Regions from separate parts of the Homo sapiens genome. Here region 2 is linked to region 1. Evidence: fine-mapped expression QTL. A gene starts in region 1. The other region holds a variant in brackets. All regions are shown on one strand. Distances are between the middles of the regions.

Region 1 (8,337 bases):
CCTAACAACAAAAGTTATCCCCAAACCCATGTTTTTATTTTAGATGTATTGATCTTCCAATGTAAGGCTTGGCCTTTTAAATACTAATGCAATCAATGGCCAACAACCTGACTCCTTCTGGAGACTGAGAAGGAAAGAGAATGGTGAAATTTCTTTGAATTGTGACTTAGTACAAATTTTAAGAGGTCAGTAAATCCTGATGCTATGAGCTAAATCTACTGGTAAATAATCAATTACATTCCTTAGACACTATAATCTTTATCTTGGTAAACAGAGAAAACACAGCTTTGCCAAATAGATCTTTCCATCTAACATCTTAAAGGTAATTATTTAAATATTACCACAAACAAGGATATATTTTGTTTAAATTAGACAATTAACTGAAGATAAAATGCACGTCCATAGTTTAAAAAGGGGAAAAAATACAAATTAACTGGCCTAGTCTTTTATCTGAGTTTATTATACCATTTAAAATATTACAAATAAATCAATTACATTTCATGCATTTAAAATGCAAATCTAAAATGCTCCAGAGAAAGGCTTTTCATTTCAATGTGAAATATCCAAATTATTTCAACATTACAATGAGCAATTAGTTTGCAGAATCTGCAAACATTTAAATGTAGTGTCAGAAGTATTTATTAACAGTTAACAATATTACCTTCAGGAAATACACAAAGGCCAAAGTTAGTCGAGTTTCACTTGGACAATTTATTTAATACATGGGTTTTGGCAGACCACTTATTATGAAATATAGGAGAACTCTCACTTTAACTATGCCTGAACTGCCAGCAAATGCAAATAAGTACATGCTCCATTAAATTAAATGTCATCCAACATTTATCAAATATTGTCTTAGTTACAGCTTGATACCTATCTAAATTCATATTCGAGCAAAACTAGGCCCCGAAAGTGCGTTTGTGGCTCTGCACCTCCAGAAGTGAGTTCAAAAAACCTGCAGCTCATCAGAACTGCAACAATAACTCTTAATATTTTCTTGTGACAAAAAAAAAAAATCAAGTTTACTTCAATATATTTTCAAATATTTACTGGAAGTAATGTACAAGAAAAATACTATACAAAATCGTCTCCTGGACAACTGCACCTCACACCCTTACACTGGCGGAGTTATATTTAATTGGTAACTAATCTAGAACGATTCTCCAGTTGTACAAACCATTAGGTTCAGATATATTTTACAAAGGTTCTTTTTTATTTTCCCTCTTTTGGTATTTAAACTACAGCCTCGTCTGAAATAAACGATAGCTTCTTCACTTGTTTGTAAGTTTAAATCACACACAAAAAAGTTTAACCCTACGATCTTCATGAATTGAGAGAATTTACGAAATTGGTACTATACAATTGACGGCCGGACTAACAAAAAAGATTGGGAGGTTATGTTTGGGAGTGGTGAAAAAACGAGGTAGAAAAGGACAAACATGGAGATAGTTAATCTGGTCTCACCGGAAAGGAGTATTTTTGCATAAGAAAAAAGCACCTACCCTCACCCCCGCCCCCACCCCGTAAGTTAAGTTAATGCAGTCAAAGTAACTTTGGGATCAATATTAGCAGTTTCGAGAGAAAGATTGCTCCCCGTTAGAGGAAAAAACTATTATAGAAGGGAAACCAAATGGAAGGTTGCTATTTTCCCCCTAGTTTTTTTAAAAATAAAATATATGCTATAAAGATGAAAGAAAGCTGCTGCAGCGATTCGACAAGACTGCCCTTTGCTGAAACTTGCATCGGTTCCACCTCAGGGAACAAAGAAAAAGAGGCAGACTGACATTGGGAGATCTAAACTCTACAAACTCTGGGTCTCGGGCTGCCAAAAGTCACCCCCACCAAGCCCCGACAGCCTGAGTAGGACGTCCGGCGATGCCCAGGGGCCTGGCAGGGTGCTCCGAAGCCGAGGTGCTCAGTACAGCGGCTCTGGAACCAAGCAGCCGTCTGCCCGGGCGGCGCTGTTCTGCCCAGGCCTCCAGCCTCTCCCTCTCCACCGCTCCGCTCAGGCTTGTCAGCCGAGCCGCTCCTGCCCGCGCGAGGCCCGCTGTCTACCAGGCACTGGATTAGTCCAGCTCTACCTCCAGTGGCCGTTCCCTCTAAAAGTTACGCCCTTCACAACCTGGGGGGTGGAGGAGGGGAGGACAAGGAAGAGAGAACGAGAAATAAAGGCCCGACGAGGCGCGGGTTCCGGCTGCAACGGGTTCAGGCAGCGTTACCCGTGGAAAGGGAAAGCCAGGGCCCGGGACAGCGATGCGTGTTACTTACTTGTCCATATCCCCTTTACAAAGTTAAGTCACAGAAGGAAGAAGGAAGAGGGGCAGAAACAGAAAGAGACAGAGAGCGAGTCGGATGCAATAGGGAAAGGCTGGAGTTGAAGTCCGGACAGACAGGGCCCAAGAGGACTTGGTGGGAGGAGGTCGGGGAGAGGGGCGGGCGCAGGGTGGGCGTCACTCTAGGCCGTTGCGGTGCCCGGGCTCGGGGGGCTGCAGCAGCTCTGGGGAGTGGCAGGGCGGGCTGCCCGCGGCGCTGTGCTCGCTGTCGGTGTCGCTGCCCTTCTTGCCGCCGCTGCCCGAGCCCGCCGAGCCGCCGCCGCCGCCGCCGCCACTGTGCGTCTTCACGTGCTTGCTGAGGTGGTCGCTGCGCATGAAGCGCTTGTTGCAAACTGGACAGGCGAAGCGCTTCTCGCCGGTGTGGGTCCGCAGGTGCCGCTGCAGCTCGTCGGAGCGCGTGAAGCGCTTGCCGCAGAAAAGCCAGTTGCACACGAAGGGCCGCTCGCCCGTGTGCCAGCGCAGGTGCGCCTTGAGGTGCGAAGTCTTGCCGTACACCTTGCCGCAGCCCGGGATGTGGCAGCTGTGCAGGCCCTTGCGCCGCAAGCTCGCCCCGGCAGGGCCCAGCCGCTCTGCCTCCTGGCAGTTGGGGCAGTCGCAGGTGGCGCGGCCGGAGTAGCGGCGAGCTGAGGAGCGCGGGGAGCCCCCCAGCGGCGCCGAAGGCCCAGCGCTCAACATGGAGCCCCCCGCGCCGGCCAGCGGCGACGGGGCCGAGTCCGGGTAGGAGCCGGGTAGCACTGGCTTGAAGCCGTCCATGAGGTGCTGCCCGGCGGGGCTGAGCAGGTGCGAGGAGGCGCCGCTGCTGAAGGCCGAGTGACTCAGGCCCGAGTAATCCGAGTTGTAGCCTCCGAGCGGCGAGTGCAGCGAGGTTTGGAGCCCCCCGGCGGCAGGGTGCAGCGAGCCGGGCAGCGCAGCCGCGCTGTTCGGGTTCTGCACGTCGATCCAGCCGGCCCCCACGTCCCACCAGCTGGAGGCGCCGGCCGAGCCCACCTCGCCCGCAGCACCCAGGCCCGGGTGCGAGGGCTTAAACCACGACTCGTACGGGTGCGCCATGCCCACCCGCGGGTAGATGCCCTGCAGCCCGTCCACAGAGGTGTGCACCTTGGAGATGAACACCGGCTGGTGGGAGCCGTCCTGCGAGTGCGCGGAGGAGCCGCCGCCGCCGCCCCCGCCGCCGCCGCCGCTGCCCCCGGAAACTCCGGGGGCCTGGAAAACAGAGTAGTCGTTGGCGAAGGGCGAGCTGGAGGCGGCGGCTGCGGCGGCGGCGGCGGCGGCTGCGGCGCTGCTGGAGGTGAGGGAGAAGGCGCTGGAGCCAGGCGAGCCGCCGCAGCTGAACGAGTCGGACACCAGGGCCGCGGCAGCCGCGGCTGCTGCCGCGGCCGCCGCAGCCGCCGAGGACGAGCCGCCGTTCCTGGAGGCCCCGGACACGCCGAAGCTTGAGAGACTGGAACCCACTACGTTGCAGCTGGCGGAAGAAGAGGACGAGGAGCGTTTCCAGGGGTGGAAGCCTTTGCCGAAGGAAGAAGAGCTGTCCGAGAGGGAGGAGGGAGACGGGCTGGGGCTGCCTATCTTATTACAGGTAGCGGCAAGCATGGCCAGAGGAGTCGATCCCAACCTCGGTTCTTCCTGCGAGGAGGAGAGGAGAAGGAGTGGGGGAGGGGAGGTGGGCAAAGGGCCGGTGGGGGAGGAAAGGAAGAAATGTGCATCAGTCCTTCGGTAGCCTCCAAAGCGCCCCACTGCACCCCATCTCTCGCTGCGGCGCGCCGCCACCAACTCACCTGGCACCCCCAACAGCCCCGGCGCCCGGCCGCTTCCTACTCTACAGGAGGGGACAAGTTTGGCTGCCGGCGTCTGATTCGGGAGCAAGCACCACGCTAAAGAAGAGTTTGACAAGTATTCTCACCTAAAACAACACTCTCTTGCACACAAAGCCCCAGACACTTCGTAACAAACAAGCAAAAAGTCCAGATTGGAGAGGAAGGAAGTTTTCTTTGCCGAGAAGCCTGGGGGAAAACCATTGGATTGCTTTTAAGAGCGCTTCCCTGTAATCCGGAGAGCTTTGAAAAACCTGTTCGGGTCCCCAGAAACCCATCCTGGGTTGTTTCTCCCAGGCCAAAAGAAATCAAACTGTAGGGCTCACTCTTTCTTCCTGCTTTTCTTTCTTTCTTTTTTTAAAAGCATATCTACAGTAGTAAAAACGAGACGAGTTCAACGTACCTGCGAGACAAGGCGGGCTGCAGAATTTTTTTTTAAGGGTTAGGGGAAGAATCTGCACTTTGCCCAGAAGGAAAAACTTGCTCTCTTTACCCCCGAAATCGGTGCCTGTAAAATGGGCTGGACGCAGGTCTCCCGGGCAGGGAGCAGCGAGGCGCTGCGCGGTGGCTTGTCTAAATGCCCTTCGAACCTTTTCCTGCGCTGAAAAAAAGTGACTCTGCCCCCTTCTCCCCCTTTTTCTTTTCTCCAAACTCACTTGTATTTAAAGAAAAAAAAAAAAAGCTCTCAATAGAGAGACTGATAGCCCGTGGCCTGGCCGGGGCGACTTTAACCCCCTCCAATCGGCAATAAAAGGAAACTAATTAAACCAGCAAGAGAAAATCCTGAGACTCACCCCTAGAAGTGAAGTTGCCATCACACAAAAGTGCCCTCCTCCTCTCAGAGGATCTTTTTTATATTGATAAATCAGAGGCAGTGTTTTTTTTAGAGGTGTGCAATACAATGATCAGTTCCGCCCATTCCACCACAATTGTAGCTCCCTCTCCGGCTTTGAAGTGCCGCGGAGGCGCGGCCAGCCAATCTGCGGCCTCGCCGGGCCGCGCGGCGCGCGCGCCGTGAGGTCATCGGCGCCGCCGCCTGCCGCCGTGGTGGAAGGGGGAGTGGGAGCGGAGGGGGCGGGGGCGGCTGCGTGTGTTACAAAGCGCAAAGCGCGCGCTCGCGTGTATGAGTGTGTGTGTAACAATGTAACTGTGTGCGAGTGTGACCAGGCGTAGGAGAGGACAGTGCGGAGACTGGAGGGAGGGGGGATGGGGGTGTGACACCGTAACAGTGACAGTGTGGTAAAGGCGGGGAGTGGAGAGAGTGCAGAAAAGGGAGGGTTGTGTGATAAGATAACTGCGTGTGCGACAAAGCGGGGTAGAGGGACAGAGCAGTTAAGTGTTGGGAAGGGTGTGAGTGTACGGTAGTGTAACTGACAAACCTAGGGAGGGAAGAGGGACTCAACTGGGTGGGGGGTGAGTGTGTTTGGTGTTGGGGGAGAAGGAGGGCTGTGAACATGTGTATTTGTGCGACAGAGAAGAGGGAAGGGTGTGTGTGGGCGCTTGTGTTGTGTGCGCGCACCAAAGCTGGTAGTGGGGAATGGGAACAATGCAATAAAGTGTGTGTTTGTAAGAGAGAGACTGTCGAGCTGAAGAGAGAAACCGACTAAGTTGATGGAGGCTGAGTGAATAAATATTCACAAACGCTGCCCCTGTCGCCAACTTCCTTTGGCTCCTTGTACCTAAAATCTTGAGTGATTTTTTTTTCTTAACTTGGTAAACAGCGTCACTACATTTTTGAAGAAGATCTTTAAACCCACCTTTTCTTTCCCGGCTCTCCAACGAAATAGTAGAAAGGTTGAGAGGCTAAGGGTTATTTTTAGGGATGCGTTGGGACGTGGATGCGCGCCTGCGCGCCCATGAGTTGTTTCTTTGATGCCGTGGCTTTTTTTTTTTTTTTTTTTTTTTTTTTCCCTGAGGTGGAATTCTGCTTTAGAAGTGCACGTCTCACTCTAGGGGAGGAGGTGTGTGTGTCCCGTGGTGTTGAGTAAATTTCAATACAAAAGGATTAGATAGAGAAGAGAGTAAGCGAGGGTCGTTTTTTCTTTGGGTAAGAAATTGAAGAGCGTTTTACGGAATTTAGAAATTTTCACAGAAAACCTCACTGCCTCTTTCTGAGAAAAGAATCAGGACTTTGATCGAAATATATGGGTTCTATTTATCTAAGAATAGAGAGGAGCTTTTGACAAATCTTGGACATTTATCCAGGCGTCAGTGTCTAATGGCGATTGGGCCAGAGATCTGTCTATGAGTGTGTGTGCATGTTAATAGATACACTTAGTTCAAATTCGGTGGGGTTTAGTCATTTGCTTGCCATTTGTGTTATTAGTTGCCTTCAGAAATGCCATTACAATTTCACTGCCACCACAAGGGAACTTAAACCGCAGAAAGCACAACACCAGTGTAGCAAAAAGTCCAGTCTTTGTAGCCCTATTGAATATTCATAAGTTATAAAAACAGTTCATATTTTTAACCAGTTACAAGTGCTCTCAGAAGTCTAATTTTAAAATGGAATTAACTAAAATGTGACTAGCTGGGCGAACTGTTTTGTTTTGACTGGGAAAACATTTTTATTTTACTGTTGTGTTTGAACCCCCCTCAAGGATTTCACAGCTTCTAGGGATGTCAAAAAATCTTCCTAGGGTTTACAAAATTTCGAAGTCAAGTTGTATCGTGTAAATTTCATTGAGCAGAGTTGAAACTGATGTTTGTGGTGTGAGAGTGTACATTTCTGACCCTTTTTTAAACGCTGTGGGGATATTGACTGTACATCATATCTATTGATTAAGGGGGTAAGGTATACTCTCATACTTTGAAGTAAGTGTGAAGTAAATTAATGAACTGCTTTCTTTCTCTGAGGGCTGACGCTTACCATAAATGTCGTGTTTCTCCCTGCAAGCCGCTCTGAATGATTTTAGCGTGTTGAGAAGGCGTGACAGGCCAGCCCAGAAGGAGGAAGGGGTGGGGGAAGGAGGGTACTCCGTTTAACAAATAAAAGAGAATTAACTTCATTGCTTTGGTCTCCTTCTTTAATGATATTCATTTTAAGGGCCTAATATACAGTTGTTCAGATTTGGGGTTTAATTCTAATCAATACCATCATCCTCAAAGGTGGAGAAAAACAGCTTTGAGGGGAGGCTCCCATCTATGAATAGTTATTTATTTTATCTTTTTATCCTCCTATCTTCTGGAAGGAAGTGAGGCAGGACTATTAAAAAGTTAAATGCTGATACTGAGAGTAAACAGAGGCGTTAACACTGTTTCCTCAAAAATGCCAGGAATTAGAAAAACCCAGCGTCATGTGACTGCAGTTTTGAGCTACCTAATTCTAAGATTTTTCAAGTGTATAAATTAACTTTAGAATCATATGTCATTCTTCCTATAAGTCACAACGTTGGTGTGGATTTAATGAAAATACTGGATTCTTCAGTTTGTGTAAGATTGGCTTGCAGCATTTGGGGATTTCCACAAAGGTGTGTATGTGCAACTTTCTTCATTATATATATGTATATATATTTTTTATTAGAAATATATGTATATTCCACTTACTTTCATATAAAAAGTGAGCTATTTCTTTCATAGTAGCATTGGTCAAAGGGCATTTTTTTCTTGTACCACCCTTCTTTCACTCCCTCCCCAAAAGAAATGGCTAGTGTTTGTGACATGAGGCATAAGGCAGCTGTGTTAAAAAGAAAAGACAAAGAGAATTATATAATTGACCAAAAATTTTAGCAGTCATAATTTTGCATCTAAATATGCTTGAAACTAGACTTAATGACAGCTCTTTCTCCACTTTGGAGAAGTGACCCAATCATTCTTAAATCCTGTCCCATAGGAGAGAACATCTGTAATCCATTGTTGATATAGCCTGCCTGGCAAAGCATTTCAGGGTGCATACACTTCGGTTTAACTTTTACGATATTGATTATTACTCTTGAGTATTATATTGTGATAATATAGATGTTTGAAAAAGAGGGGGAAGAAAAATAGGAAGTACAGGCTTTCTAACATTAATTAAAAGTTTCTCCACCCCATATGAAGTTTAATGTGCTGGCAGGAAGAGGGGTAGATGGATATTCTGCTGTTTCTTGCAAACCTGTGGGATCCACTATCAATAAAGCTAAAATCTATTAGCATTCTGTATGCATCTGCAGCATAAATTTCATTTGAATTTCAAATTTAATAAACTAGGAGGT
Region 2 (8,337 bases), 55 kb before region 1:
TAAGACATTTTCCTTAAGCTTATCATCCAAAAGTGTCATTTTTCTATCTTATTTTCTGGGAGGAAAGGAAGCTAAGAATATTTGTCAGGAAAACTTACTGACTTGATATACTTAATATGTCCCCAGTGTGAGTGACTAGAATTCACAAATGGGAAAAGATTAACCATTACTAATTTTATTTCTATATTGTATTGTCCTGTTTTATAAGATAGCAACTGAAGCTTTGGAGAATATACGTACTATAGTGTCATTAACAAGGGAAAAAGCCTTCGAGCAAATGTATGAAGAGATGCTTCAGACTCAACACAGGTGATTATAGATTCATACTGACTTCAAAAACTTAATTTTGTTCTGTAAAGGCAGTACTCTCAAATGACTCCAGTGGTTTGCCTGCTAATTCATTTGCTCTTGAGCCTTTCCTAATAATGTCATGTCATAATTTCTCATATGACTTCACCAAGAGAAACTAGAAGAGGAATTGAGGGCAACCACAATTAGAATAAATATTTTAGGTCCTCTCACATTACCATTAACTGTCTGTTACTAAGTATGCACATTTTTCTTATTTTCCTGAAAGAATATTAATGAAATAACATACGCAAGAAAGAAAATAAAATTGCGGGCAGGGCGCTGTGTCTCACACCTGTAATCCCAGCACTTTGGGAGGCTGAGGTGGGCGGATCACTTAAGGTCAACAGTTAGAGACCAGCCTGGACAACATGATGAAACCCCATCTCTACTAAAAATGCAAAAATTAGCTGGGTGTGGTGGTGCACACTTGTAGTCCCAGCTACTTGGAGGCTGAGGCAGGAGAATCACTTGAACCTGGGAGGCAGAGGTTGCAGTGAGCTGAGATCATGCCATTACACTCCAACTCCAGCCTAGGCGACACAGCAAGAGAAAAGAGCTCGGCCCTTTACATTAAATCCCTAAAATAGTTTACATTTTAAATACGAATATATACATAATAAATGCACTTACACTTTTAATTTTAAACTAGTCCTCCTTATCACATTGACTTAGTGATGCTTTTTATATTACTTTAACAGAAAGATAGCTTTTTACTCTTTTGGACTCATACTTGTAGTTGGCACCACCCTTTAATTTCCTCTATTCTGTTAATGAAAGATTGTAATGGAGACTTAGAAAATCCTTCTAAATACCTAAACCAAATCTCTAACTCTTACACTAGCCATCCTTTCACGGGCTTTGCCCATTCATTTAACAGTATATAAAGTTAAATTTGTTATACTGAACTAGAGAGTATATGACTATAGGGAAAAGAATTATAACATTATCTGTCTTTTCTCAAAGAATTCTCAGTAGTAAAAAAAAAAAAATCACTTTCTCTTTCATCATTCGAAAAATGCCTTTCCACCAAATTATAACATTTCAAAGTCCTCTCTATTTATTACTCTACATGTATTCAATTGACCTTGCTATAATTCATGCCTCATTATTTGGTAAATTTTGTACATTCCAGAAATACCTCGAAGAAAGCACAGATTATTGGAAGCTGTTATGCATTCAGCCATGCCTTTATATATTTTGCCTATGCGGCAGGGTTTCGATTTGGAGCCTATTTAATTCAAGCTGGACGAATGACCCCAGAGGGCATGTTCATGTAAGTCGTGGAAATAGTCCGGACCTGGTAGCTCACACCTGTAATTCCAACACTTTGAGAGGCTGAGGCGGGTGGATCACTTGAGGTCAGGAGTTTGAGATCAGCCTGACCAACATAATAAAACCCCATCTCTACTAAAAATACAAAAATTAGCTGGGTGTGGTGGCAGGCTCCTGTAATCCCACCTACTCAGGAGGCTGAGGCAGGAGAATCGATTGAACCCAGGAAATGGAGGCTGCAGTGAGCTGAGATCACGCCACTGCACTCCAGCCTGGGCAACAAAGTGAGACTCTGTCTCAAAATAAATAAATTAATTAATAAGTTGTGGAAATACATAAACCTTGTAAGGGGGTCATGTACTTATTTACCAGAAAGATGTCTAGTTTATAGTGAGTTATCATTTAAATCACATATGTGGAAAAGGTATGCTTGAATTTTTTTTAAGTTGGAATTTTTTTAAATATACACATATTTTTAAATTTTGTATTGATATATAATAGTTACACATATTTTAGGGGTACACATGATATTTTGATATATTCATATGATGTTTAATGATCAAATCAGGGTAATTGGGATGAATTTTATTTTTAATTGACAGACAATAATTGTACATATTATATATTTATGGGGTACAATGGGATGTTCTGATATATGTTAACACTGTGAAATGATTAAATCGAGCTAAGTGTTTTTGTTATTTAGTCTCTATAAGTACAGCATAACTGGTAAAATACTGATACTGATATAAGGCATAAAATCTGAATTAAATTCCCAGATGAATTGCTCTCTGCTTCAGTTTACTGGAACATGGGAATGTGGGGGCAAAATATGCCTTCTTGTCATTCATCCCTTAGGAAATTTGTGAGACATTATGAAACTCTCAGTGTGGAGATGGCTTCCTAAAGTAAGACTGTACATCAGTGAGGATGAATTATTTGCTAAGCAAATAATCCAGAAGAAACACATATAAATGAGTGTTTCCCTTCAAAAATGTCACATTTGGAATTGAATGTGGTGTCCCAGTGAGGCTGCTTCTTCCCAAAGCATTAGGTTGGAGCTCCTATTTTGAAGTTCTGGTCACATAATTATGAATTTATTTGTTTTACCGGAACATCTAATGCAACTGCTAAATTAGAAAAATTAATTTTGAGTATTAATTCTGAGCTGAGAGCCTAAAATATCAGAAATGTTGCTAATCCATCATAAACGTCATTGCTAAGCATTTAGAACTGGAGAAATCCATACAATACTTGACTCAAAAAAGTAACATTATGTTATTTTTAACAAGCCCACCAAAAAATGCACATCCATGCAAGTATCAGCCTCTTCACAATAATGAATTGGGAGATTACACCTGTTACAAGGATGCTGCTATTTGGCAGAACACACTGGGCACTTCTCTTTGGGTTTTGTTTCCCAAGTCTCAGGACATTACTTTGAATATCCTTATTGTTGGCATATTTGTATTTTCAGGATAGGTTCAATTTGAGGAAATGGCCAAAAGACATTTAAACCTAAGTAATTTCAGAATAACTTGGAATAATTTTTAGTTTCTATTCACATGAAAATTTATTTATTTATTAAGCATTAAGTGAAGTCCCAGGAAGTTTCTTTGTTAGGCACTGATAAGAAAACAGTCCAGAGTTCACCAACCCAGTATTCCTAAATCTTACCTGACACCAAAGCCACTTAGAAGTTTCCTGGAAGCAGATTTCCTTATAAAATGGAATATGGAAATGGAATATCTGTATTTAAAATTTCAACAGAAGGGCTGGATGTGGTGGCTCATGCCTCTAATCCCAGCACTTTGGGAGTCCAAGGCAGGTGGATCACCAAAGGTCAGGATTTCGAGACCAGCCTGGACAACCTGTGAAATGCTGTCTGTAGTCAAAATACAAAAATTAGCCATGTATGGCGGTGCATGCCTGTAATCCCAGCTACTTGGGAGGCTGAGGCATGAGAATCACTTGACCCGAGGAGGCAGAGGTTGCAATGAGCCAAGATCACACCACTGCACTCTAGCCTGGATGACAGAGTGAGACTCTGCCTCAAAAAATTTAAAATAAAATTTCAACAGAAATTGCAAGTTCCCTGTCCTATGTTCTCCTAGCCTCTAAAATAGTGTGCACTATTGCCCATGTGAATTTATAAACCACAATTATATTTAGGCTTGGGTTTCATTCTGATTACATAAGACTAATTACTTAGGTAGATTAACAAGAAACAAAATCTGAAATCACATAAATAATTCAGCTCACCAGCCCCCGTGAGCCAGTTTTTCCTTTGTTCTAATATAATCCAGGCACTCCCAAGCTTGAAAGTTGGTTGTAATCCAAAAGTTTGTTTGCAAGCCAATAGTTTGAAACTCAAAACATGTTTTCCTCATGTTGCTCTAAACTTTCCACAGACTTCTTTAATCCCCAGGGCCCCGTTCCTTCTGTATAACTAGTTTTGAGTATTAGTAGAAAGCAAGCCAATTAAACATATTCATACTAATGTACGAGGTTTGATGATTTTCCAAATTCTCACAGAAGAATTTTCATCTGTTTTCATCAATTTCTCTGTCACTACTCTTTCTTTGCTTTGTAATCACACCTATAAAAAAAAATAAGAAGGCCAGGCA[C/T]GGTGGCTCATGCCTGTAGTCCCAACACTTTGGGAGGCAGAGGTGGGTGGATCACAAGGTCAGGAGCTCAAGACTAGCCTGGCCAACATGGTGAAACCCCGTCTCTACTAAAAAATACAAAAATTAGCTGGGCATGGTGGTGGGCGCCTGTAATCCCATCTACTTGGGAGGTGAGGGACAAGAATTGCTTCAACCCCGGAGGTGGAGGTTGCAGTGAGCCGAGATCACACCACTGCACTCCAGCCTGGGCAACAGAGCAAGACTCCAACTCAGGAAAAAAAAAAAAAAATATATATATATATATACATATAAAATTTACTGGATCCTGTTTTTCAGCCAGGACTCTGTGTGTTGGAGGGCTTTAGAGCTCCCAGACCTTTCATCTATTACACTTTCATTAGTGTTCTCATCCAATCTGTCAGTTTTAAATACCACCTGTGTCCTGATAACTTCCTTCTGTATATTTCCAACTCTGACCCTGCCCTGAGCACAAGACCCTTATCCAATTACTTAGGAGACACCTCCACTTGGAGGACTAATATCTCAATGTGTTCAAAACAGAATTTAAGGTGTTTCTCCCCAAAGGTTATCTTCCCCAAGACTTTCCCATCTTAACTAATAACACCAACCACCATCCACACAGTTGTCAGCCCAAAAATGTTGGAGTCATCCCTGTTGCTTCTCTTGCCATTGTCCACCACATAAATCACTGATTCCTCATGACTCTAATTCCAAAATTCTTCTCATCCTCTTCACACTCATCCAAGCCCCTCCCTGTCTTGACTGGACCACTGCAACAACCTCACCAATGTCCTTGTGTCCACTCTTGCTTCCCTATAATCCATTCTCCACACTGCAGCCAGACTGATCATTTAATGCACAAATCCAATAGCACCAGTTTATTAAAATTCTGCAAGATCTAGATCTTCCCACTGAAATTTGAATAAAGCCAAAGTCCTTACCATGACCTGAAAGACCTTCATGATGGGGCTGCTGCGTTGCTTTCCAATTTCATCCACCTCTATCTCCCATGTTAACTACTCATCAGCCCCACACTTGCCATGTCTGTCCCTGGACCTCCCCATTGCAGGGTCTTCACACTTGCTATTCTCTGCCTGGAATGGTCATTCCCCAGGGCTTTGCTAAGCTACCTTTTTCTTACCACTCAGGCTTCCCCTGCTAAGTCCACTCCTCAGAGGGACTTTCACCGATGGTCCAAAGTAGTTCCCCTAACCCTCCCTCCTCATCACTCTCTTTCCCATCACCATATTTTGTTTACAACACTTATGACACTTATGATTCTATGAAATTATATTTTGTGTTTCCATATTTATGAGTGCATAGACTGAGCACAAGTTGTAACCTATCTTGTTCACTGATGTTTCCCAAAAGCCAAAAACAAGTGGGTGGCACATAACAGACACACAATAAATATTTATTGAATGAATGACTGAATCAAAATTAAGGGGGAGATTTGGAATGGTACATAATTAGGCAGTACAGTCATTTCTGGAAATGTGCCTTCGGAGTCACCTTCACACTTTGAAAACAGGAGTCTGTTTTTCACAAATTTTTCTAATTTTCTTCTTTTCTACACCCATATGTCTAATACCAGGTGCTTTGGCAGGAGGACTGGATCTAAATCGAGGGCAACCATTGATATAAAATATGATGTGTGGAATTGAGAATTTACCTGTACCTACTGAGATTTGTTTAGATTAAAGCTAAGAAAAAATTTCTCAGTCGAAGAATGATACAACCTCAAAATCATGCCAGTCACTTTCATGCCTGCAAATGACACCCGTTAGGATGTTTCCTTTAAGGGGCTTTCCAAGACTGCCAACCATTCCATTACTTATGAAAATTGCTATAACGGCAAATCTTGATTGAATCTTTACTCAGTTTTAAGTATTTGCTGTATATTATCTGTTTAATGCTCTAAACTACCCTGTGAAATACTATGGTTCCCATTTTACAGATGAGAACAATTAAGACTCAAAGAGGTTACCTAACTTGCTCAAAGTTACATAATCGGTAAGTAGCAGAGCACAGATTCAAGTTCATGGTTCCAGATTCCAGAGGTTTGGTTTACTCAACGTACATTATTATTATTATTATTATTATTACAAATTCTGTGGCCAAACATTCATAGAATATTTCTGTGAAATTATTTTTTAAATAATTCTTGCTTAGTTTTTCAAACATTCGAGTATTCAAAGTTGGGCTGATTCCTCACATATAAATGGAACAGGTGACCTGCTTAGTGCTATTTTATAGCCCTAAAATATGAGAATGAAAAGTCCCCAATATAAAATTTCTTCCCTGAGCTGGCCTACCATACTTCCTGAATTTCTTTTAATTAAATTCATTAAAAGGGGGTCTCTTCTAGATACATAAGCATTTTAACTATCAGAACATATGAAGGACTGTTAACATAAGAGTAACAATTAAAGAATAGTACCACCTTGGTATTTCCCAGTGCCCCAAGGGAAGGAAGAAATAGAGAGCTATCTGAGCTAGAGCCACTGGTATCACTTTTCTTCTCTTTTCTTTTCTTTTCTTTTTTTTTTTTTTTAAGTTCGAGTCTCGCTCTGTCGCCCATGCTGGAGTGCAGTGGCACGATCTCAGCTCGCCGCAAACTCCGCTTCCTGGATTCAAGCAATTCTCCCACCTCAGCCTCCTGAGTAGTTGGGACTACAGGCACATGTCACCACACCTGGCTAATTTCTGCATGTTTTGGTGGAGACCAGATTTCACCATGTTGGCCAGGCCGGTCTCAAACTCCGGACCTCAAGTGATCCACCTCCCTTAGCCTCCCAAAGTGCTAGGATTACAGGTGTAAGCCACCACACCCAGCCTCACGTTTTGAGTTTCATCCAGTCAGAATACAGACAGAATAAGGGTACCCACACTTTTGGAGTATGGACAAAAGAGAGATTCTCTAGGGATTCTCCTCCAGTATTAAATGTGGTTATTGCCCAAAAGAGCAACATAGCACTATGCATAATGTCAATAGATGAGATTTGTCTTCAACACCAAAGAGGATTTGGTCCTAGAGATCAAATGTGGCCCCAACTACCATGAATGTGTCACAAGCTCCCTTTAGACACACTAAATGATACCTGGCCTAGAAGACTCTGTACCTTCCAGAATCTAGGATGACAGACAGCTTTCAATCTCATCGACTAGCTAAACCAAAGAAATTTACAAAGAAAACTCCCTCCTACTAGAATTCTTCTTAGATAAAAAGCACTTTGAGCCATTCTCTAAACCAATGGTTTTCCAACTCAGCAATCTAGGAGCTGGTTAAAACTGTAGATACCTAGATCTCATCCTGCAAAATCTGATTTGTAGATCTAGTATGGGGCAGGAATCTTCATTTTATCAAACATTCCAGATTACTCCAAGGCATAATTTATAGCTACAAGGATGGATTATCTGTGTCTCTTTCAAAAATGACATTGTGTCTCAGAAAGGGAGATACACAAAGGGAGTTTTAACAGCAAAATTCTTTAATGTGCTCATAATATTAGTTTGTCAGCAAGGCTTTTTAGAGGAAAAAGCCTCTAAAAGAAAAAAAAAGACAACACGCATGTCTTATGGTAGAAGCCGTCTCTATTTCTACTATCCTAGAAGTTTATCTGAAATGAGCATTTAAAATAAGGTGATAACATTTTCATTCTGCCACCTTACAGACAAGGCATAGGGGCGTTTAGAAAATCTCTTGTTTAGGTTCTCATGCACCCATGTGTAGTAAAACACTCACCTCTCCCTTTGTTAGTCCTGGTAACACATTCTATTTGTTATTTCACTATAAATGTGTAGATTTAGATGTACAAAATAAGTTTATTTTATCCTATCTCTTTGTGTTAGTCCCTTTCGGCTGGTTTCCAGCTGACTTGCCTTTTGCAATACCGACCAAGAACCATTCCTAATCAGGAGAGGTTTCTGTAGCCTTCCTTTCCCCACTGCAAAGCTTTCTCTATCTCTGTGAGTTTCTTCCATATTTTCTATCCATATTATCAAGAAGCTAAGCAGAGCATATAGGTAAGAAAGAATCAAGATATGGCAGCCCTCAATACAGTAA

Alleles and levels. Positions count from the first base shown, and alleles are read on the strand shown. Sizes are in standard deviations (SD) of each study's normalised expression.
With allele T in place of C in region 2, the expression in sun-exposed skin of the gene that starts at base 5,047 in region 1 is lower (small effect, 0.23 SD a copy in GTEx).

What was found.
Region 2: its variant is fine-mapped to the expression of SP8 in sun-exposed skin (GTEx, PIP 0.92).

The regions. Positions count from the first base shown.
Region 1 is chr7:20,781,840-20,790,176 of GRCh38, forward strand. It overlaps SP8 (Sp8 transcription factor), which reads right to left and starts at 5,047. Exons shown (of 2, transcript NM_182700.6): 1 at 4,939-5,047; 2 at 440-3,956. The coding sequence starts at 4,959. The coding sequence ends at 2,451. RefSeq lists an enhancer at 1,425-2,085.
Region 2 is chr7:20,726,832-20,735,168 of GRCh38, forward strand. ABCB5 (ATP binding cassette subfamily B member 5) reads left to right here. Exons shown (of 28, transcript NM_001163941.2): 22 at 209-309; 23 at 1,484-1,624. Among named protein-coding and RNA genes, the nearest start is that of SP8, 56 kb to the right of the region's middle. The variant C/T (reference allele first, on the strand shown) is at 4,251.